Linked DNA regions of Homo sapiens: region 1 is linked to region 2. Evidence: fine-mapped expression QTL. A gene starts in region 2. The other region holds a variant in brackets. All regions are shown on one strand. Distances are between the middles of the regions. Region 1 overlaps PADI2 (peptidyl arginine deiminase 2). Region 2 holds the start of PADI2 (peptidyl arginine deiminase 2).

Region 1 (12,260 bases), 21 kb after region 2:
ACAGGTCTTACTATATTGCCCAGGCTGGTAGTTTATATTCTTTTTCCATACCAAATTTAAAATTAGTGTGAGTTTTACACCTTATAACACACCTCCGTTCAGAATAGCCGCATTTCCAGTGCTCGGTAGCCATGTGGATGTTGTGGGGTTAGACCATGGAACGATGGCTTCGTAAAGGATGAAAATTATAGACAGCTGAGTGATAGAAAGTTTAGAGGCTCAGAACCATAGAATCATTGGAGCTTACAGTCACAAGTGTCCTTGGTCTATCTGTAAAATGGGGTGCTGAACATCCATGGGTGATTTGCCTAAGTGGTGAGGCTGAGACCAGAACTGTCTCCTTTCTGGGTTCCGTAATTATGAACTTTACCATGTGCCCCATCACAGTGATGGCATTGAACATGGTCCAAAGAAAATAGCCTCAGCCCTGTCCCCTCAGTGGGCACTAGACGTGCAACATGGCAGATATGGGGGACCCCAGGCAGCAGAATGCACACAGTGGCACAGGAAGGCAGACAGCATCCTAACTGCCCTCTCAGCCAGCAGGAGGGGAGTCCACAGTCTAGTTCAGTTACCTGAGGGAAACCGCCCACCAACCCAGGAGTTCTTCCTGGAGGAGAGGGTTCTGATGTTTGGAGAGGGTTGGCTTGACAAGCTGTGAGGGACAGCAGTTGCTTCAGGTTTTCCTGCTTGTGATCTGTGATCTCTGCTCTCTTTTCTCTCTACTCCAATGTGCCCCCTCCCCACCAAGGTCACCGTCAACTACTATGACGAGGAAGGGAGCATTCCCATCGACCAGGCGGGGCTCTTCCTCACAGCCATTGGTGAGTTGGCATGGTTGCCGTCTCAGTGCCTTCATCACCCAGGGCCTGGCACTGTTGTCCTTCTCTGGGGCACTTAGGCGGTTCTCAGTGCGGCTGACCTGGCACTTGGAGCTTCTTCTGAATGGCACAGGCCTGGGGAGGGATGTCACATGTGCCCCACCCCGGTCCTTCCATACTGGGGTGGGGGCTTATCTGCAGGAAGAGGCACTCCCTGATCCATCAGCAACCCCCCCCCAAGTGTCAAGGTCCCCTTCCCAGGCTCTGTGGCCCTAAAAGAGAAAAAGGTGAAGTGTGTTTCCCCCTGCCTCTCCCCTGCAGCCTGGAGAAGAGTGTCCCTCTCATGGTGAGGGGAATGGCCACAGTCTATAAAACTAGCAGCTGTTCTTGACAATCCCAGCTGCCCCCTGGTTCTCCCCAGATTCAGCCCCGAGGGTGCAGAGATGCAGCCTCCAGGTCCTTAACTCACCTAGTCCAAGTCCTTCATTTGATCCACAGGATGGTGAGGCCCAGAGAGGTTAGGGAATTTATTCAACATCACACAGCAACTGGGTGGCAAGTTGAGTCCAGAACCCAGAATTATCCCTGTCTCAGGTTCTCTCCATTGCATCACACTGCCCTGCGCTGGGTGCCAGGCCTGCATGCCAGGGAGGTGGAGCCTAGCCTGGCTCTACAGGACCCTTGGCTGTGATCATCTGAATTTTCCATCACTCCACCCCCTGAAACTGAGGCATTACTTTTATGCTATTTTATTTCATTTTTTAATCATAGAATGTTAAAGCCAAGAGGACATTTCAGAGGGTCATTTTGTTCATCCAACCTTGGTTTAACATTGACAGAGTTGCCGCATGGCAGAGGAAGGGAACTACCAGTTATTGAGAGTCAACTGCATGCTGAGTGCTTTCAAAATAATGATGCGGCCTGCTTATTGCAGGCCTACTGTGTGTCTAGAGCTGCACTGGGCACTTTGATGAGGAGGAGGAGGGGGAGAATGGTAAACACCTGATATTAATTGAGCACCTATGGTGTGCCAGGCTCCAGTACTCAATGTTTTACCGTCACGATTTCAATCTCTTCTTCCAACTATTCCAAGGATAGATATTATTATTATCATCCTCATTTTATAGATGAGAAAATCAAGGCTCAGAAAAGGTAAAACAAATACTTGCCTGCAGCTACATCTCCAGAAAATGGTTGGTGAGATGCCAATCATTCCAGTTATCCCACATTCTCAGGGGGGGTCTCAGAATCTCCCCAAGATACAACTAACTCCCGAGCCAGCCCCTTCCTCTCTAGCCCTGTGCTCTCAGCTGCTTAAACAGGCTTAGCAGCAGGGCCCTTCTCATTCTTGGCTAATTCCCAAATGGGCTTGGTTGCTGGTCCCCCTGTCCCTCTTTCTGTCCCAAGGAGGTGCCCAGCCCTGGGGTAGGGAACCTCGGGATGACCTTGGTGAGGGTGGCAGATGATCAACAAAGACTCCTGGGTTGTACTGAGCCCTGGCACGTGTGTGAACCTTGCATGCACACAGCATCCAGGCAGTCTCAGATGACAGTCCCTGAGGAAACCTAATCCCACCAAGATAGGGACACCTGAGGACGGGGGCAGGAAGGGCAGGGGCCTGACACCTGTCAAATGAGGATGATCCCAGAAGGCTGACTGCACCATTAACAAGACTTCCACCAAAGCAAGACAGACTTAGGATAGATGGCAAAATAAGCGTCTATAAGGAGGCAGGACTGGACTTTTCCTCCTCACTAGGAGATGACAAAGCTGTGCTTAGAGGAAGCCCGCTCAGAGTTGGCGGCATGGCTGAGTCCCAAAAGATGCCACATGTGCCCACGACAAGTGACCAAGTTCATCCTTCCGAGGTCTGTTAATAATTATTTATTTAACTGCCACAAGTTCCAGATATTTAGATTCCATGGGCCAATCAAATGTCCCCTGCCCCCACCCCCCAAAAAATGAGAACACTAACAACTTTGATGCTTGGCAAAAAAAAGAAAAAAAAATACATCAATAAAACAATTTGTGGCCAGGCGCGGTGTCTCACGCCTGTAATCCCAACACTTTGGGAGGCCAAGGTGGGCAGATCATGAGGTCAGGAGTTTGAGACCAGCCTGGCCAATGTGGCGAAACCACATCTCTACTAAAAATACAAAAATTAACTGGGCGTGGTGGCACGCACCTGTAGTCCCAGCTACTCAGGAGGCTGAGGCAGGAGAATTGCTTGAACCCAAGAGGTGGAGGTTGCAGTGAGCCAAGATGGTGCCACTGCCCTCCAGCCTGGGCGACAGAGCGAGACTTTGTCTCAAAAAAAAAAAAAAAAAAATTTGCTATCAACTATCACTATCATTTTAACTCTTAAAAAATAGGCAAGGCATAATCTCAGAATAAAAGACAGTCATGGCCGGGCACAGTGGCTCACGCCTGTAATCCCAGCACTTTGGGAGGCCGAGGTGGGCGGATCACCTGAGGTCAGGAGTTCAAGACCAGCCTGGCCAACATGGTGAAACCCTGTCTCTACTAAAAATATAAAAACTAGCCGGGCATGGTGGTGGACGCCTGTAATCCCAGCTACTCAGGAGGCTGAGGCAGGAGAATTGCTTGAAACCAGGAGACAGAGGTTGCAGTGAGCTGACACAGTGCCACTGCACTCCAGCCTCGGCGACAGAATGAGACTCTGTCTCAAAAATAACACAAAACAAAACAAAAAACAGAATAAGAGACAGTCATTCAATTGCAAAAAGAAACTAACACCATTGAACTTCTGTTTCCTGTTCCAACAGAGACCCTGGTGAAAATCTGGTTTCCCTTGGGGACCACTGTTCTCTCTGTCCCTTCTAGGTTTTCTCTTTTCTCGAGCATCTGCCCCAGGAGCCCTTGAGCCCGTCATCCTGAGTAATCAATCACTCAGGGGCAGCGCCTCAGAGGCAAGCCCCCCCCCAACCCCAATATCTTGAGAGGCTGGGACTGTCCCCTGGGCACAAAAATGTATCTGAATCTCTCTCACCCTGGTCCTATCCTGAGTCCACATTGAGCAGAAAGAGCCTTGGCTTCTGGGTAGACAGAAGTAAGCCTAAGATCTTTCTCTGTCCCCTCCAGCCAGCTTGTGACAAGTCACATCATCCCCCTGAGCCTTGGCTTCCTCATCTATAAAATGCGCTTCACAGAGCAGCCTTGCATGGTGTTTACAAGGATTCAGTGGGATGTTGTGTGCGAAGGGCCCGGCACAGAGTGGGTGCTTAGTCAATGCTCCGCCTGCTTTTCTCTCTTGCTCTTGAGGTGGCCGCATTTTCTCTCTGCCTGGGTGAAGTTAAAGAAATGTATGGTCTCTCCTTCTTCCTTCTGGGATTTGGGAGCAAATTCATGATTCCTTTGGCCAGATCAGGCTCTGGGTCTTTGTCCCAATCCCGCCAAGGACTTGCTGTGTGACCTTAACAAGTAACCACCCCCACTAGGACTCACTTTTTACAAACTATAAAATAAGGGGTTTGAGCTAATTAATCCCTAAGGACCTTCAAGACCCTGGTTAGGGTTGATTTGCAAAGACTTCCATTTTTTGGGAGGGATGGGGGAGAGCAAGAGGTGAGGTGTGGGGAGGGAGGAAGAATCCCACCCTATTTGAGGTCCTGGCAGTGGAAGGAGTACACATATGCGGGCCCCAGAAAATTTTAACATCAACCTAAGGGGCTTGATCCTATGCCTTCTCCCCAGAGGCTGGGATACTTGCCCTGATTGGCTGTGGGGGAGGGTGTCCTTCCTTCCCATAACATCTCAAGCTGCTTAGTAAGGCAAGAAGGCCAGGCACCCTGCCACTCTCTGGCGACCCTCCAAAATGCTTGTGCCTCTCGGTCAGAGCTGAGGCTTCAGTGTCTTCATTCTCAGGGCAGACTGCCTTGAACCCAATCCTAGGGACATTTCCCGTCAATCTGCCCCACACCCAGGAGCCACCTGACGCCTTGGGGCTATTCTGGGGAACTGAGGTGGGATCCAGAGCCTCTGGGAAATGTCGTCTGGAGCCTGGAGGCCCTGAAGCAGAGCTCCTCTCCCTCCTCCCCCTCGGGAAGGCAGAGCCATCCCAAGAGGCAATGCTCTGGGCAGGTCACACCAGCCCTGTTCTCTGCCCCTACCCGCAGCATCCCACTGGAATCTAGTTAAATCAGACATTGGGGGAAGCCTTGCAGGGGCGAAGTCCCATGGGCATGACTACAGGGTGGGCGGTCTCTGAGGGTGAAGGGGCCAGAAGGTCATTTCAGTGGATTATGGGGACAGGTCATGGGTCATCAGAGAGGAGTTATGAAGCCCTGTGAGAGGCTGGGAGGACGATAAGGGAGCCACACTGTGAAATGCCCACATTTCGTAACAGGAAGGTAACGAAACCTGTCTGAATTCAGTAAATCAGGAAATCGCAATAAGCATGAGAGAGGTTGCCTTAGGCAGCTGAGAAGAAGGGCTGGACAAGGAACTGCTGTCTTTCTTTAGAAACAGTGTGTTACTATTTTATTTGATTTTGTTTGTACTATGTCCAAATATTACATGAATAAAATGTTTCCATTTAAGAATTCATAATGAAATGAAGCAGTATAGACTGCACCATAATTTCTCTCCTAGCCCACGGCCCCACTGCTTTAATGGACTCGCCACAAGGAGTCCCAATGTAATGTCACCTTACGGCCTAGAGACGAAGGCCGCAGGGCTACCAAGGTGGGGAAATGGGCACTTCCTCTGGGAATGACCTTCAAGGGAGCAAGTCTTGTGTCTTTGACTTTGGGCTGGGCTTTTGGAAACAGCTTGCAGGGAGGTCAGCCTGGGTTCATTGCAGGGAACAGCAGAGAGCAGGCAGCCGGAGTCCGAGGCCCTGCTGAGAGCCTGGCTCTGCGTTCTGGGAACTTCGGTGGTCACTTCCCTGCTGCGGGCCTGGGTTTCCTCATCTGTATCGTTAGGGGGTGGGGGTGGTCACGCCTCCCCTGGAGTGGCCGAGAGAACACACCTTGGAAAACGCTGTGCAGCTGCAGAGCAGGATGCCCGCAGGGGAGAAATTTTTACCTTGAAAAGGACAGAGTGGCTCCCTAAAGAGGCTGGACCTGCGGCTCCTTCCGAGGGAGGAGTTTCAGGAAGCCAGCTCCCTGAAAGGCAGCATTCAGTGGACGTGACCGGCTGGAAAGTTCACAAAGGTCCAGGA[A/G]CCAAAACCAGTATTATTCCTGCCCCTGCACCCCAGGCTCTTAGCCCCTGGTGGTACCGCCTTCCCTTCTTTCCCCTGGGGTCCTTATCCTGCACCAGCCTCCCAGATTACCAGCCCGATTTGCTGACAAGTGGCTTCTCTGAACCTGGGTTTGCTGCCCTGTGAAACGAGAGCAATGCTATTCATCTCATGGGACTGTGGACGCCTTGAGAGCAGGTGCTGTGCCTCCATTGCCCGTTGCCTGGTACAGCTCCCGGAGCAGTAGCTCCTCAGCAGTGAAATGTGGAGTGAATGCGATCGGAGGGAGGAGGTTACAAATTATGCCTTACAGCACCTAACTCACCGCACAGCTGCAGAGGCTGGGACACACAAGACTGCCTCTCTCAAGGGCCAGGCGCCCTTGCAGCCTCCTTCTAGACTGGAAAAGTCACATGCAGGTCTAGGGTATGCAGGCTATAGGCAAAGGGAGGACCTGAATGTGATCTCTGGACTCTGGGCTTGGTTGGCCCAGAGAAGGGTGACATCAGTGCACTTCGTGTGCCAGGACCCTCCTTTCCATGCCCTCCAGGCAGAGGGTGTGCCTGCCACGGGGACTAACCAGGAATGCATTCATTACCACCCAGCGCCCACCAGGTCCAAGTCATGCTCAGCGTGAGATGAGCCCACTCGGGCAGCTCTGGGGACCTGGAACGGGCACATGTCATGTGTGTGACACTCCCAACACCTTCCCAACCACATCCCTACTCGACCTCATCCGTCTCCAACTCAAGGCAATTTCGCCTCCCAAGGGACATTTGACAATATCTGGAGACATTTTTGGCTGTCACGACTGGGAGGGATGTTACTGGCATCTGGTAGGTAGAAGCCAGGAGTGCTGTTAAACATCCTACAATGCACAGGCTGCCCCCACACAAAGAGTTATTTGGCTCAAAAATGTCAGTAGTGCCTTCCATTGCAGCTAATGCATCTGCTGTAACCAGGAAGGGCCCCATGTTACAAGTGAGGAAACTGGGGCTCAGAGAGGTCCTCTAACCTGCCCAAAGTCACACAGCTTATAAGCAGAGAACCAGGGTCTAAACCCCACCTTGTCTGATACTAAACCTTTTCACTTCCCTACAGTCTCCACAAAGCCTGTCTCCATGGCAGGCCTAGGGATGCTGAGGGTCCCTTCACCAAGAGAAGGGATAAGTGGGGGCCTGGCCCTGGATCCTCCATCTAGACTCACAGGTGACCTCAGACCAAGAGGGGTTAGAGACAGCTTCCCACCCACAGTAAAACCCTCAGTCCTTGAAGGTGGGATCTAGCCCACTGGAAGTTCTGGGAGAGAAAGAGACACGCACACCCAGGTGCACATGTGCACACCTATGCGCATGCCCGGGTAGACTGAGAAAGGCAGTTTGGGAATGCTATCCCTGTTAAGTTTTCAGAATATGAACTATGAATCAGACCAACCGCACTGTGTACCCCAGTTCTGCTAGCGTCCCTATGTGATCTTGGGCATGCGACTTCACCTCTGAACTGAGGCATCCAGATCTGTGCAGCGAGGATCATTCCCCAACCCCCAGCCAGAACAATGAAGTGGTAGGAGGTCCCAGACCTCCCCGATGGCAGCTCTTGCAGCCGTAAGCTACGAGGTCCACACGGTGTCTGCTGACGGTCTCCAGTGGGTAGTGGGATGTTGAGGCAGGGGGTTGCATAAGATGACTTCAGCGAGGTCCTCTCTTTCCCGTGACCAAATGAATGGCTGAGACGCACCCAAATCCCACAGGTCTTCCTCTTGCCCCTGCCCTGCCCTGCCTGGCAGGCTCAGCAACTCACCCATGTCTCTTCTCCCCAGAGATCTCCCTGGATGTGGACGCAGACCGGGATGGTGTGGTGGAGAAGAACAACCCAAAGAAGGTACCTAGCTTTCAGGGCAGGCACCACCCTGAACCCAGGGCTTCCGAGGGCACAGCCCCAGATCCCGCAGGCAATTCCCATTTCACAGCTCAGGAGACTAAAGCCCAAGACAGGCTCCCAGACACACAGCATACCAATGATGGAACCCACAGAGGAGCTCAGGCATCTCCTAGAGACGGCAACAGAGCAGGCTCCTGAGTCTCAGTTTCTCCATCCCATGATGGGGACGCCCAATTCATGGAACTGCTGGGAAGGATAAATGTGCCCGCTACAGAGGAAGCACTGTGAAGGCATTTGCTCTTATTATTTTGCCTGTTCTTTTAAGACTAGGGAGGTGGGGGAGACAGACCCTCAGGACAGAGGGTCGCATTCATCATTCTCAGTTCCAGGCGTGGTATTATCTCTGCTGGTGCATGCACGGCCCCTCTCCTCTTTCTATTTATTCTTGCATTCATTCACCATTCATTCATTTGTTCCCTCGTTCATTTACTTATTTTCTTTTATCTTGCATTCCCCACTCCCATTCTGCTCCCCCACAGAGGACCATTTTGCTGGGTTTAATGTGTCTCTTTCTGCTCTGGTGACTCTCAGGAGGCATGTGGTGTGGTTGGTGTGCATGTATTTTTAATTTGTGCAGACGGCATGGTGTTCTCCATCACATTCTGTTTTGTACTTTTCCCTCAACCTAGTTTTTAGGCTCCATCAGTCTTGCTCTGTGTACATTCAGGCTGTTGCTTCTAACTGCTTTCCATTTTCTGCCCTTCTGTATTATCTCAATTTTTGCCATGGGCATATGTGACTTTTATAATAACACTCTGAAGCCTAGAGTAAAGTATACATAGAGGGGTACTTACGAAGTAAAATAAACACAGCCTGATGAGAAGCCTGGGTCCTAGCAGCCTGCTACCCTGACTCTCTGCAGGTCAGGAGAGGGTTCTCAGCCATGTGGGGAAGTCCCTTCTTCTAGGATCGTGAGCAAGGCTTGCCTGAGACCAGGGCCAGCCCTGCACACTCATTCTCTGAGTCTATGGCCAAGCCATATGAGAATGAACTCCACAGAGGCCTCTGAAACCCAGCAGCCCCAGGGCGACAGCTTCCAACCTCCCCCAAGGGGCTGGGCAGTCTTGGGAAAGTCACACGATCCCCATGAGCCTGAACTTGGCCAGAATTTTTAAATCTGGGCCGGTGAAGTTTTCACATTTTCTTCACTCATCCCATAAATATTTGCTGAGCATCTTTTATGTTCCAGGAGCGGGTCAGGCCCAGGGGACACAGAAAGAACAAGAGAAACACAGCCCTGGCCTTAAGGAGCCCATGGTCCACATTAAATATGGAGTGTTTCGGATAGCTGTGTCATCACAGTTGTCCTAAGTCCTCCCAAAAAGGATGTGTACAGGGCCAGGTGTGGACCCGGGGAAGCTGCTCTGTCCTAGAGAATCAGAAAGGCCTCCAGGAAGAAGAGACAGTCATGCTGTAACCGAGGAAGGGTAGAGTGGGCCAGGTGGAAAGGGGCAGGACAGGAGCAGAGGGACTGGCATAGGCAAAGGCCTGGGAGCTTGAGTCTTTTGGGAGCAGAAAGGCGCCGGGATGGGTGGGGCAGAGTGAGCGAGGGGCAAGGCGGAGGAGATGAGACAGAGAGGAAGGCAAGTTTCACCAGGCCTTCCAAGCCACAGCAAGGAATCAGGGCTTCATGCCAACTCAACTGGGAGCCCCTGACCTGGCTTAAAGCAGGGAAGCAACACAATCTGGCCCGAGTTTGTTCTAGTAGTGCTATGGCTGCAGTGTAGAAAGTGGAGCACCATGCAGGTCCCATTCGGAGCACTAGGAGCGTGTCTGGAAACAGCTGGGTGGCATCCATCCAGGCGTCTCCTCCTGAGCTCCCCTAGGGACCTAGGGACCCATGGTAGAATGTCTGTCTGCTCATTTCTCTGGCCAGCCTCCACCTCCCTGCCTCCACCCACACCAGACACCAGCTGCACCAGACAGGAGGCCCATAAATGCCTCAGTCAGCCTTCCTGTCTCTGTGCCTCTATTGAACTTGCCTTTGATGCCCACATTCATCCTCTGTGGACATCAGTCTTGAGATTCACATTTGCCAGGTCACAGCTGCCCCAGTGGGTGGCGGCTACTCTTTACCCTCATCCTGGGGCTATCTCTCCAGTGTCCCATGGGGTCTATACAAGCATAGAGAAGAGGGCACTGACCTTTCTTCCTGCCACTGTAGGCATCCTGGACCTGGGGCCCCGAGGGCCAGGGGGCCATCCTGCTGGTGAACTGTGACCGAGAGACACCCTGGTTGCCCAAGGAGGACTGCCGTGATGAGAAGGTCTACAGCAAGGAAGGTGCCAGCAGGCCCTGCACTTGGGGGGCAGGATGAGAGGAGTGAAAAGATTCATGCCCAGTCCTGGGCTGGGCTGAGGGTGAGGCAGGTGTGGACTCAGGCCTCCTGGGGATGGTGGACACAAATTCCCACTCTTGCTTAAAGCCAAAGGCAAAACCATAGGAAATAGACAAGGGCCGGGCGTGGTGGCTCACACCTGTAATCCTAGCATTTTGGGAGGCCAAGGCAGGCAGATCATGAGGTGAGGAGTTCAAGACCAGCCTAACCAATATGGTGAAACCCCATCTCTACTAAAAATACAAAAATTGGCTGAGCGTGGTGGCATGCACCTGTAATCCCAACTACTCAGGAGGCTGAGGCAGGAGAATCACTTGAACCCAGGAGGCAGAGATTGCAGTGAGCCAAGATCATGCCACTGCACTCCAGCCTGGGCAACAGAGCAAGACTCTGTCTCAAGAAAAAAAAAGAAGAAGAAGAAGAAGAAGAATAAAAAGAAAATAGACCAGAAGGAAATTCCCAAAAGGTTAATCATCTCTAGTGTTGGAAATGACAACTGGTTTTTATTCTGTTTTATGCTTTGCTTTTTTCTTTTTCTTTTTTTTTCTTTTTTTTTTTTTTTGAGACAAGGCCTTGTTCTATTGCCCAAGCTGGAGTGCAGTGGCATGATCATAGCTCACTACAGCCTCAACCCCCTGGGTTCAAGCCATCCTCCTGCCTCAGCCTCCTGAGTAGCCAGGATTACAGGCACATGCCACCATGCGTGGCTAATTTTTTTTATTTTTGTAAAGATGGGGTCTTGCTATGTTGCTCAGGCTGGTGTTTGTCTCCTGGCCTTAAGTGATCCACCCACCTCAACCTCCCAAAGCACTGGGATTACAGGTGTGAGCCACAGCACCCAGCCTCTTTATGCTTTTCTATAGTTTCCATAATACACATCCATGGGGATTTTTTCCTGATTATCAAAGTAAAAGGCATTGGGAAGCTGAGGCTCCAGCAACAGATAGATCTCTTCATTCTCACCTTCTGTCCCTCAGATCTCAAGGACATGTCCCAGATGATCCTGCGGACCAAAGGCCCCGACCGCCTCCCCGCCGGATACGAGATAGTTCTGTACATTTCCATGTCAGACTCAGACAAAGTGGGCGTGTTCTACGTGGAGAGTGAGTGATCCCAGCCCAGTCCAGCCTAGACCTTTCTAGCCACCTACCCTCCTCCCCTTAGCAGTTGTGGCCTTCACAGGTGCAGGTGCCTGGGGAAGACCTGGATTGGTCTCTGAGTGATTGTAACATGGCAATGCTGTTGTCCCGTGAAGTTGAAAGACTCCATGGGGACACATCGCTCCTCCTCTCAAAGGAGTCTGGAGTGACATGGGTCTATGTAGAACCCAGAGGCCCTTCCTCCCTACGAATCAGGGGAGGAAGGGCATTTGGGCACTTCTTTTCTGGAGTCATGTCACCTTCAGGATACCTGAGGCAGGGCAGGCACCACCTCCAGGTATTTTCTGCCATCTCTGACTTTCAAAGACCCCCTAAAGATGCAGTGGGCACCCTTGAAGAGTTGACCCCTTGCTCCTCTCGATGGCAACAGATGTCCTGGGCCCCCACTGTGTAGGGCACGGGCTCCTGCCCTGGAGCTAGTCCTCGTAGCTGCCGGCTCTGCCTCACCCTGTCTGTGGATATGTGTTGAGCCCTTTGGTGCCAGGCCCTGTTCTCAGCTTTGAGATCTCTGCAGTAAACACAACAATCACACCCTGCCCTCAAGGAGCCGCCAGTCTAGCAAGAGAGACATAATCAGTACCACAATTGGAGGAAATGAAATAGAATAAGTGAGGAGAATGGCAGGGCAGAGGCACCACTAGATGGGTGCCTCTGAAAAGGCCTCTCTGAGGAGGTGACATCTGAGCTGAGACTCAGATGAACAATAAGAAGGAACCAGCCACTCGTGAGCTGAGGGAAGAGTGTTCTAAGCAGAGGCAACAGCATCTGCAAAGCCTGGAGGAGGAGACCAGTTTAGAGTG
Region 2 (12,260 bases):
CCTCGTGGGCTCAAGAGATTCCCCCAACCTTGGCCTCCCAAGTAGCTGGGAGTACAGGGGGTGCATCACCATGCCTGGCTAATTTTTAAATTTTTTTGTAGAGACAGGGTCTTGCTATGTTGCCCAGGCTCATCTCAAACTCCTGAATGTTAGTGATCCTCCCTCCTCAGCCTCCCAAAGTGTTGGGATTACAGGCTTGAGCCACCACATCCAGCTAATAATACATTTGCATTTAATGAAATACATTCACCATATTATCATTCCAACATGGAGTCAATTATTTTTAAAATTACCATCTTTTTCTCCTTGTAACTCCTTGAAATCTGTATTTTACACCAGGGGTCCCCAACCCCCAGGCTATGGACCATTACCAGTCTGTGGTCTGTTGGGAACCAGGCACACCGCAGGAGGTGAGCATTGGGCTAGCAAGGGAAGTTTTGTCTTTAGATTCCCATAGGAGCACAAATGCTATTGTGAACTGCGCAGGTGAGAGATCTAGGCTGTGAGCTCCTGATGAGAATCTAATGCCTGATGACCTGTCACTGTCTCCCATCACCCCCAGATGGGACCATCTAGTTGCAGGAAAACAAGCTCAGGGCCCCCACTGATTCTACATTACGGTGAATTGTAAAATTGTTTCCTTATGTATTACAATGTGATGATAGAAATAAAGTGCACAAGAAATGTAATGCGCTTGAATCATCCCGAAACCATCCCCACCCCCATCCATGGAAAGCCTGTCTTCCACAAAACAGGTCCCTGGTGCCAAAAAGGTTGGGGACCACTGTTTTACACCTACAGCATGTGTCAGTTCAGATTAGCCACATAAACCTTGTCTGGCAGTGGCTACATGTTGGAAAGCATGGGTCTAGGACCTCCCAGGCTTACTCTGGCCCCCTGGCAGCCCCTCAGACAACTGGCTTATTACATCTTCTCCAGAATTCACCTTTCTAGCTTTGCTTCACTGACTAAGGGTAGAACCCTGGCCCGGACAAGTCATCTTACCCTTGGATGTATAAAATAAGGGTAAGAAAAATACTTACTTCTGGGGTTGTAGCAAGGATTCAATGGGATAACATACACACAGTGCTTAGCGCAGGTGCCTGGCAGGGAATAAATGCTCCATAAATGGTGACCTAATGAATGAAAGCCTTAGCCCATCTTTCAGCATGGTGATGGTTAATTTTCTGTGTCGATTTGGCCAGGCTATGGCACCCCATCATCCAGTCAAACATCAGTCTGGATGTTGCTGTGAAGATATTTTTCAGATGTGATCAACGTTTAAATCAGTAGACTTTGAGTAAAGTAGATTGCACTCCAAAATGTGGGTGGGCCTCATCCAATCAGTTGAAGGCCTTAACAACAAAGACTGAGGTTTCCCAAAGAGGAGGCAATTCAGCCTCCAGAATGCAACATAGAAACCGTGCTGTTTCCAACCTGTAGATTTCAGACTCAAGACCGCAACATCAATTCTTCTCCCATTTCTGACTGGCCAGCTCTACAAATTTCAGGCTTGTCAGCCCCCACAACCATGTGAGCCAATTTCTTAAAATAAATCTCTCTCTCTGCATATATAAATGTACCCCCGAGTGGGGTACAGCCACAGCAGCACGCAGAAGAGACATGACTTCCTCATTCTGAACTCACGCAGTATTAGAACAATGGAGCACCCCAGCCCTTCCCCGCCTCTGAGCACGATGTCTCTCAGGACCGAGAGCTGAGGCAGAGGCTGAATCAACGCCCCCATCCCAGAGACTCTTCTCAAGGGAGTGAGACCAAAGGGTGGGCTTTGCCAGGGGAAAGGGAATGTGACGGGGCCAGGCAGGGCCAGGGTTATGGGGATCTGCTCTTGAGGGTATGACTGCAGGTCCCCATGGTGCAGAGTCAGGGGTTGGGGCGATCCCTGGCCACAGAAGGATTGCTTTGGGGATCCATGGCCCAGACCCCGACCTCTTCCTTTCTCTGGTCTCCTGCCAGAATTCCTGTCAAATTTAGCTGCCTACAGCAGCCAGAGTGATTTTCCTAAAGTGTACATCGTGCCGTTGACACCTTCCAAAGTCCTTCCCAGGCTTCCCCCATGACCCCATAAAGATAAAGCCCCAAAGCCTTTTCCACGACTTACAATGCTCTGTGTGACCTGGCCACAGCCAGCCCAGCCTCTCACATTGTGGAAGCTTTGAAGTATGTTATCAAACAGCATGTAGTCAGAAGCCCATGTTTACAAAAACTTAAAATAACTATATACGCATAGGAAATAACTACCGTCTACTGGAACTTGGGTCTGTGCCAGGCCACGATGTGCAGTACCTTACTGGATATCATCTTGTTATTCCTTGTTCCTTATAACAATTCCTAGTATCTCCTTTATAGAAGAAGAAACTGAGGCCCAGAGAGGCCCCCAGCTAGTGAGGGGCAGAGCCAGACTTGACCCCAGGTCCACCAAGACCAAAGTCCATGCTCTTCACTGCAGGCTGGTTGGTGCCTCTGTGCAGATGGAAGATAATAATAGCTCTCACCTCACAGGGCTGTCGTGAGGATTAAACAGGCTGAGATGTGTGTGTGAATGGGCTCTGAACAGCTCCTGGCATGGCGCAAGGGCTCAGGAAGTGTGCTGCCCCACAGCAGCCTGTGGGCAGCCCGGCCAGATCATACTCATAGATTCAGACTGATCTCTGGTACTAGGGTCATGGGTGATCATATTTTTTTTAACTTTTCCACAATGACCAGGTAATACTTGTGCATTTTTTTCTTTCTTTTTAAATTATTGTATGTATAGTGCTCTCAGTAAGCTGTCTGTTTCCTCAAAGCAGGCTTGTCGAAGTTTGAGTGGCCTCCCTGGTTCCCCCAAGGCCTGGCCCGGAGACCCCACACCCAGTGGAGGAACCTAACAGAAAACAGCTCAGAAGAGCCCCTCTTAGCCCAGGCACCCTGCCCACAGGCTTGGCAGGGGCGCTTGCTGGAGGGGTGGGTGCGGGTCTGTGCCAGGAACTGGCCTAAGCTAAGTCCCCAAAAGACACCGTGAGATGCTTTGTGGCTCTTCCGGATCCCAGGGGAGAGGTGGGAGCAGCCGTGATGCATGCGACCTCCGGCCCTGAATCCACCAACAGCTGTGACTACTTCAGCTATTTTAAACCTCTGGGCACCAGGAAACTCCTGTCTCATCAACCAGGCTCTGGGCCCAACATGATGGCCTGAGCCCGGGCAGGAGTCCTGAGTGTGGGTGGCCAGGTCTGAATTGGGTTTTTAAGGGGAGGGGGCTTCATTTCTTGAGCCTTGTGCCAGGCTCTGTGCTAGTATTTTCTGCACCTTGTTGTCTCGTTTAATACCGTCCTTACACCGTGCTGAGGGATCAGTTACTTCACAGAGGCAGAAAATGGGGCTCCGAATGGCAGGGTACCTGGCCCAAGGCGGCACAAAAGCAGAGCTGGGCCTAGAACTGCGACTTCCTTATCTACAAAGCATGGACAGCATTCTGCCCCTGCCCTCACTCGGCCTTGCCCCCTGCCTCCACCCCAGTGGCCCTGCAAGCTCCTCCCTCTGCCACTCTTAGGAGCTCTGCAACCCAGAGTCAATTCCCCCACCTCCTCACAGCTCACTTTCTTCATCTGTAAAGTGGCGGAGTTACTGGGAGGGTTCAGTGATCTAACTCTAATACATGAAAAGAGCCGCTTGGAACAGTGCCTGACCCACAGAAAGAAAGCAGTAAGTGCCCGCTCTTACTCCAGCTCCCCTGGGTATTGCGGTCTGATGTTATCACTATCTTGCCCAGTGTCCTGTTATGAGCTGCCCGGGGTCTCCGTCAGTGGGGGGTACAGTGTCCTCCCCCACTCTGGCCCCAGTCTCCCCATGAGTCAAATGAAAGTTAGAGCCCCAGGAAGGTGAGAACCCTGGTGGGTGCCCGTTATCTGTCACACAGTAAGGGCTCCAAAGTCACTCGTGGCAGAGGGGTGCCCAGACACGAGCTCACCTCTGGGGGCGCCTCGAAGTCTCTCCAAGCTACACAAGTTTTGTCCCAGTTTGGCAGGTGGCCACCCGAGAGATTCCTCCTGATTGGAGGATGTGCTCAGCCGGGTGCCTGGAGTTCATCAGAAGTTACTGGCCTCGGCCGGGCGCTGTGGCTCACGCCTGTAATCCTAGCACTTTGGGAGGCCGAGGCAGGTAGATCACCTGAGATCAGGAGTTCAAAACCAGCCTGGCCAACATGGAGAAACCCCGTCTCTACTAAAAATACAAAATTAGCTGGGTGTGGTGGTGCCTGCCTGTAATCCCAGCTACTTGGGAGGCTGAGGCAGGAGAATCAATTAAACCTGGGAGGCGGAGGTTGCAATGAGCTGAGATGGCGCCATTGTACTCCAGCCTGGGTAACAAGAGGAAAACTCTGTCTCAAAAAAAAAAAAAAAAAACAGTTACTGGCCTCTCCCTGGGTCTGTGAGCTGTGCCTTTGGGGGACAAATGACCTCCTGGCTAAAACTCGGGCCTTCCCTCTTCCCCACTCACATTCCTCCCAAATCCCTGCCACTCAGAAGCAGCTGGGCTCTTCACCACCTCCTAATTTGGGCCGCCTCAGGGAGAAGGTTGGAGTCCAAGGGCTGGGTATATCAGCACTGGGCACTTGTGGGCCTCACCCCTCTTGTCTGGGGGCACCCGTTCCTGGAGCTCCATCTTCCATCAGCTCTAACTCCTTCCCAAACACACATCCCCTCCGCCCCACTCCTTCCCTCCCACGGCCTCTGCCCACCCCCCCTCAGTTTCTGTCCTCACCTACCAAAGACCACTTCCTCACACAGGGCTGATGTATGTGTCTGAACAGCACTCCCACTGGGTCCCAGGGGAAGGGCTGGGACATGGGAGGGGCTGGCCGAGGCCCACACTGATTGTCATCCTACATCTCAGCCTCTGTGAGACACACGATGACCTCTGGGTGGCACCCCCCTTCCCTTGGTGGCCCAGGCCAGAACCGGGGCCCTAATCCTTACCCCTCTCCTCTCCCTCCACCCACACATCCTATCAGTCACCAGGTGCCACCAAAATCCCAGTCCCTAAGCAGTGGCCGGGTCAGTCCCCACCTCTCCAGCTCTGGCCACAGCCAGGGGCTTCCTTGCCCCTCCCCAGCCCAGAATGACCCATTTCACGAGCACACCCGACCACGGCTCGCGGAGACAACCACTCCAGGCTCCCATCTCCCACCCTCCAATGCCTTGGCTTGGCGTCCTGGTCTCCCTCAGCTGCCGGGTTCCCCATCCCCACCGCTTCCCGTTTTCTCTATGGTGAGGTTCATCTGACTGTTGGGGGATGGGGGTACCGGGCTGCACCCGGCTTTGCACAGGCAGCTCCCTCTCCTCGCCTTTAATTTGCAAACGCCTCCTTTAAGAAGGTTCCAGGATCGTCTTCTCTGGGAAGGCTTCCTGGCCCCCAGGCTGGGTTAGGGCACCCTCTTTGTGTTCCCACATTTGCATTTTCAGCCCCACTGGGCTGGGGCGTCCGGAGGGGAGCTAGGGCCCTCCAACACCTGGGCGCCCACCGAAGGTTTGTCGAATGAAAGAATGACAATCCAACCATGGAAAGCACAAAACTGGTCCCTGATGACTTCGCCACGACCTCAGCGGGGCGGGACGAGTTAGGGGCGGGACCACGCTTGACGGACAGGCCCGCAGCCCACTGCGAGAGGACTGGGGCGGGCCGCCCCGCCCACCGGCCGCTGGATAAGGCTGCGCGCGGGGCCGTGGGGCGCAGGCTGCTGGAGAAGGCGCACCTGCTGCAGGTGCTCCCGGCCGCCCCGGACCAGCGAGCGCGGGCACTGCGGCGGGGAGGATGCTGCGCGAGCGGACCGTGCGGCTGCAGTACGGGAGCCGCGTGGAGGCGGTGTACGTGCTGGGCACCTACCTCTGGACCGATGTCTACAGGTGAGCCGGCCCACCGTGATGCCCGGGCCGAGATCTCGAGCCCAGAAATCCTGAGACGCGCTCAGACTCGGGGACGTGGACAGCCTTTGTCCAGCCCGAGTTGTCCCTCATCCCGAGCCCCCGAGCCCAGAAATCCTAAGAATCTCATCCAGAAACCTGACAACCCCCGAACCTTGTGTCCACCTTCCAGAAACCCTGAGACTCTCCCAGACCCCCTAACACAGCCTCAGCCCCAGCTCCCTCACAGACCCTCCCTTTCACCCGTAACCCTCCGTCTGGCCCTCTCCAGTTCTCCTCCCGGGGGACCTCACACCCCTTCAGCTTCCCTGCCGTCCTCTCCCCTTTCACTTCCCCTCCGCACCTCACTTCCCCTCGGACCCACCTCAACCCAGCCCCTCTCCTGCTTCCCACTCCCAGTTCAGCGGAGCTTCCGCGGAGACTTGCCGGGGACTGGGGCAGGACCCGAAGGGAGCTGCCCTGAGGCTGAATCCGGCCCTGGAGGTTACTCAGGCTCCGATTTCGCCCTGTGGGGGCTGCTGGTGGTTGCTTGTCCCCAGGCACTGGCCCTGAGCTCCGTGTCCCCAGATACCTTCCCCTGACTTCATTCTGAGACCACAGAGGGACAATATTCTACCCAGCTGACGACGGGGACTTGGGGTGTATAGCGGGGTACTTTGTTGGAAAAGGATCCTGATTCAGAGTTCTGCTCCCTCCCCTTCTCTCTGTCCAAGAACTTGGTAGAGTGCGGGATGTCCGAGACAGCTGAAGGTAGGGTAGGGCCCTACCACTCCCCCCGCAATCCCAGAAAGCAGCCAAGTCCAATGATCTGTCTCCCTGAGTAATGGGACGGGGCCTTGGAAAGGTGTGGCTGGTGTGAATGAAAGGGTGGGGTTATGCTGGGGTTTGATCTGCCCCCTCTATTCCAAGCATTTAAAACCTCCCCATTGCTAGGGTTGGAGGGGTCAGTGCTGGGGGCAGGGAGCATGCAGGACTCTGAGGTGGGACCCTGTGCTGACACCGGATGAGTCCCCTATCCTCTCTGCCTCAAGCTGAACTCACACGGAGGCACCATCGTGGTTTATGGCTCTCAAATCATCCTGACACCTGGAGCACCCTGCCTCTCCCAGGCCCCCACCAACCCATCATGTGTCTCCCCACACAGCCCTGGCAGCCCTCCCACCTGCCCAACCAGTCTCCTGCCACCGCTGCAGAGGCACTGGCCACGCTGATACCAACAAGCCCCAGGACTAGGGACCCACTCCATGCCTCTGTCCCTGGCCTCAACCTCTGCCTTCCCCTGGGCCTGGGCTTCAGTTGTCCCCCATGTAAACCTCAGAGGTGGACTGGGTGGTCTCTGAGAACAAGAACACAGCAGTGGAGGGTGGTCCAGGCTCTGGTGGGGTGCAAGAGCTCCCCTGCCTTCCCCACCCCCAGCCCTGAACTGGGCACCGCTAGGGAGTGGGCGCGGAGCCAGAGTGCTCAGGTCTCTAAGCCTCAGCTGTCACCATACCCACCTGTTTATTTGCTGGGGCATGGTTGGTGCCGCCTGAAAAGCTGGCATGATCCTCCCAGTCGGGGGTGGGGAGCAAAGGAGGGTTCCTGCTCAGGCGCCCTGCTATCGCTCTATCCTGGCAAAGAGAGGCCCAGCTGGGGTAGGGGCACAGAGTGGGGCAGATATGGACTCAGCCTCCCTCTAGCAGGGGGCAGCAGTGTGACGATTCCCCTTGTCCTGTCTCAACGACCACAAAGACCCTAACCCCCACCGGCACTTAAGGTTCTCCACCACCACAGAGAGGGGCAGTGCGCTCTAGACCAGTACTGTCCAGAAAAGTCCAGTTTGAACCACAACAAAACCACAATTGCATTTTAAATCTTCTAGTAGTCCACACTTTTTTAAAGTTAAAACAACAGGCATAATTTTAATAATATATTTTGTTTAACCCAATATTTTAGAATATTATCATTTCAACATGCAATCAATATAAAAATTATTAAGGAAATGGTTTACCTTCCTTTTTTCATGCTAAGTCTTTGTAATCCAGTGCACATTTTACACTTCAGCACATCTCAGCGTAGATTGAGTGCATCTCAGGTGCTCACTGGCCACCGTGAGCCAGTGACACCGGGACAGAACAGGTCTAGTGCAGAGTTTCTCAATCTCGCACTATTGCATTTTGGGCTCGATATTTCTTTGTTGTAGCGGGATGTTTAGTGGCATCCCTGACCTCTGTCCCCTAGATGCCAGTAGCAACCCCCAAATTGTGACAACCAAAAATGTTGCCAGACAGTGCCAGCAGTCCCCTGGCAGGGGGCAAAATCACAGCCAGCTGAGACTCACTGGTCCAGTGGAAGGAAGCCTCTTCCAGGACTAAGGAGCTTGAGTTGTTACTGCTATTGTGACTCGAGTTACCTGTAGTAATGAGAGCAACTGCCAGTATTGATAACAGGAGGAGGTATTAGTGGGCACTTAGGAACTGAACCCACCACCTCCTTTCTTCCTCACCATAGACCCTGGAGGGTTCATTGATCATCCCATTTTACAGATGAGGAAGGTAAGGCTCAGAGAGATGAAGCCATTTGTCCAGAGTCACACAGGACTCAGGTCCAGGTCTGTTTGACTCAGAACTCATGCTCTTATACCCCACTCTGTCCTATGTGACCCTAAAACCAGCGGGTTGAACTGGACGGCCCTCTCAGCCTGTGTCTCTTCCACCCTGGCCACGAGCCCACTGTCCCCAGAGACTTCACCAACTCCCATTTGGCCCTCCACTCTTCCCTGAGTCCTTTGCTGCCCGGACACAGGTCCTGGCTCAAGACCCCAAGTGATGCCCCCAGAGCCTCCAAGTAGACCCCAAGGAACAAGGCCCGGGGGTGCTGGGCCCAGTTAATTACGGAGTGGCATCCTGACCCTCACTCCTTCTGAGTCGCAAAGGTGAGCGAAACGGCCTCAGCACCCACTCCCTTTCCCAAGGGCTCTGGACTCCCTTTCCTGTGATGCTGGCACACAGGATCCCCTCCAGACACATAGCAGGGGCCTCCCCAGCCTCATTCCTCAATAGACCTTGTGGTCCTGGCAGGCACTGCCCTACCAGCTTCCATCCACGGGCTGTGTGACCTTGAGCAAATCGCTTCACTTCTCTGAGTCTCCACTGACCCAAATGGGGGTCGATCAGAGAACAGGAGGAAGGATCTTGTATTCAATAGAAGATGTACACTCAGGGTCACAGTGATGAACAATTGACCACTATGCTGCCCTATGAGGGGTCATCCAGGCCACCATGGGCAGGGGTGCTCTGGGCCACCCACGCTCTCCCAGCAAAACTGGCCCCCCTGGGGATGGATGCCTTGACCTAGCCTCATTCTGACTGCTAGTCTCCAGCAAGCAATGAATAGATACATAGAAAGAAGGAAGTAGGGTGTTTGTTAGAAATTGTACTTTGTGATTGTTGTTAAAGATACTCGCTGTTTCCTTCTGCTCTTCCCAAATATACTCATCTTAGTCTTGGCACAGGTACACCTGGCCCACACAATCTCCTCCGGTGGTCCCTTTAGCCGACAGTCACTTCTTCAGTGGGGCTGGCCTGGGTCCCCATCTGATTTGGGCTTGAAGTTGGAAAGAGAGCACAGAGGGAGTCCCTAGGTTGGTTCCATCCTGGCCACCCACCTCTTGTGAGCCCTGGAGGCATGGACACTCCCAGAGTCTGGAAGGATTATTAGGGACAGGGCAGCCTCGGAGTAAAGTAGGTAGCAGGGTGGTCACTCTCTGCCCACAAGCTGGGCCTTGGGAATGGCTTCTTCTGTTCCTCCCTCGGCTTATGCCTCTGTCAGTGAGAGTTCTCGAGAAGGCAGGGCTCTTCTTTTCCTCCCTGGTGTACAGGAGCCAGGATCCAGATCCTGAGGTCTGCAGGAGCTTCAGGACACTGGAATGATCTTAACATTGTCCCTTTGCCTGTGCAGAGGTTCCAGCTGCGTCTGTGAGGTGGAGGTGGGAGGATTCCCTTCCCTGGGATTCCCCAAGGCAGAGGCTGACCAGCCATTGTCCCAGTAGAAGACAGAAAGAAGATAAATGTCAGCTAGTAATATCAAGTAAATAGTAATAATTTGCCCATAACTCGCTGGCAGAAGATAGGAAGAAGGTATCAGGCAGGCGCTCCTAGACTTTGGCACAAACTCACTCCCAGACTTTCTGTCTCTTGGTTGGTGTGAAGGCTAGAGATGTATTTGCTTTTTTAAAAAGTGTCATTAGGACAAAGGCCAGGAGGGTCTGAGATCCAGTTTTCCATGATGGGGGCCTGGGGTGCTATGGGCTCCCCTCCCCATAGTGTGCCAGGCCCTACCTCACTGATCTCCTCTTCTAGCAATTCCTCAGCACACACTCCATTCCGGCCACGCTGGCTTTGTGGATGCTGTTAGCCCTTGGCTGTGCCAAGCTCATTCCCACCTCAGGGCCTTTGCAGTTGCTGTTCCCTCTGCCTGGAACACCATCCCCCAGATCCCCACAAGCCTGACTTTCATCAGTCAAGTCTCAGCTCCAATGTCACCTCCTCCAGGAAGCTTTCTTTGACTACCCCATGTCGTGGTGCCCTACCCTGAGTCCCGAGAACTCTGTTTCATCACATTTTTTTCTTTGCACAACTTCTCATCGTTTCTTAATGTTACTAGTTGACATTTATTGAACACTTATTTTGTGCAGGCTTCTCAACACTTTGCATGCTCATCTCACGGACATGTAATAATTTACGTATTTAAACCTTGCAACAACTTTATGAGTTAGGTACAATTATTGTCCCCTTTTCGCAGCTGGGGAAACTGAAGGAAGGAGTGTTTGTCCAGGATGGCACAGCCAGTAAACTGTGGGGTGCAGAGCCCAGGCCCCTGCCTGCTCTGCCAGGCTGCCCTCCTGGTACTTATGTTTCAGGCGTGCCTCCTCCTTGTTTGTGATCCTCCCTGGAGTCAATGAAGGGCTCCCTGAATGAATGAATGAATGAACGAATGAATGAATGAATGTGGCCTGTGATGCCTGTGGACTGGCCTGTCATGGGGCTGAGCTCCCCACCCCCAGCCTCAAGGGACAGGCACCGTTGGATGGGCCTGTGGAAGGTCAAGGGCATGTGGCCAAGCTTGGCCCGAGCAGCGCTTGCTCCTGAGAGAATGACGGTGGGAGGAATTCAGGCCAGGTCAGGTGGCCCATAAATTAGAACAGCACCCAGAGCCCTCAACCCCAAACGGGATGCCTTGCCAGGAATTGCTCCAGGGCTCTGGTTTCAGGCTAGTTTCCTGGGGTTGGGAGTGTTCTAAGGAGAACCAGGCTCACAGTCCCTGCATAGTTGGGGTCCCTGAGACCTTCCCTCATTGACTGCAGGGCCCTGAGTTGGGATGGGAGCACAGTGGCAGGGGCTCACCCCAGTGCCCACCCCTAGCTGGCCAGACATACCTGCTGCACTTTGGAGGAGGCAGCTTTTGAAGGCAGCTCTTTCCTGCCCAGCCACGCCAGACCTTGCACCCAGAGGCTTTGATGGGCCCAGGCTTGCTTCTCTCTGTCATTGACCCAAGAGCCCAGGACAGGAAGCCAGTCTTTAGTGTCCCTTCTCTGTGTCTCAGACTCCCACCTGTGAAATAAGTAAGGGGCTCTCATTTGGTCCTCTTCAGAGCCAGGCCTGATCCTCCCCTCTGCCCCACACCAGGCACACCTACCTGGGGGATCTCAGGAAAGACTCCAGACTTTGAATTCTCTCCCAGGGAGGGGACAGCCAGGCCCAGGTCTCAGAGAGCCTGAGTTCCCCTCACACTCGGCCATGACTGTCCCTGAGATTTGAAGCGGGTGCTTGCCCTCTAGGGGCCTCAATGTGCTCATCTGTAAAATGAAATCACAGTGGTATGGGCCTCATGGGGTTATCGAAAGAATGGGCTGAGGTCATGTGGGCCATGGGCTTGGTACAGTGCCTGAGACATAATGAATACTCAGTTCCCTGGTGGTCTAGTGGTTAGAAAAATAATAATAATAATAATAATAATAATAATAATAATAGTAAATACTCAGTAAGTTGTTATGTATTAGTATTGAGTTTATTTTGAAAACAAGTAATAATGAGACCTGATCCCTCTCCTCAAAGACTTCATAGCACTTATGGGAAAGAAATCTAGAACTGAATTTATTAAGTGTTGTTTGAGACACCAATAAATGGAGGGAGAGATATATTCTGGCTGATGAGATCAGGGATGACTTCCTGGAAGAGGTGGCAACTGAGCTGGGTCTTGAAGGATGGACTGGGGTTCAGAGTGAGACCAAGAACATGCCACTCAGGGGCAGAGATAACTGGCAGGGAAGTTGGGGCACACAGAGACAGAAAGGGCACA

What was found.
Region 1: its variant is fine-mapped to the expression of PADI2 in whole blood (INTERVAL, PIP 0.92).

What each region holds. Positions count from the first base shown.
Region 1 is chr1:17,091,551-17,103,810 of GRCh38, reverse strand. It overlaps PADI2 (peptidyl arginine deiminase 2), which reads left to right. Exons shown (of 16, transcript NM_007365.3): 3 at 752-824; 4 at 7,841-7,902; 5 at 10,127-10,244; 6 at 11,278-11,403. Among named protein-coding and RNA genes, the nearest start is that of PADI2, 22 kb to the left of the region's middle. The variant A/G (reference allele first, on the strand shown) is at 6,004.
Region 2 is chr1:17,112,923-17,125,182 of GRCh38, reverse strand. PADI2 (peptidyl arginine deiminase 2) reads left to right here and starts at 5,732. Exons shown (of 16, transcript NM_007365.3): 1 at 5,732-5,903. The coding sequence starts at 5,812. It overlaps LOC124903861 (a long non-coding RNA gene), which reads right to left. Exons shown (of 3, transcript XR_007065506.1): 2 at 11,598-11,757; 3 at 11,338-11,512. RefSeq lists silencers at 3,007-3,190, 5,713-5,922 and an enhancer at 4,607-5,141.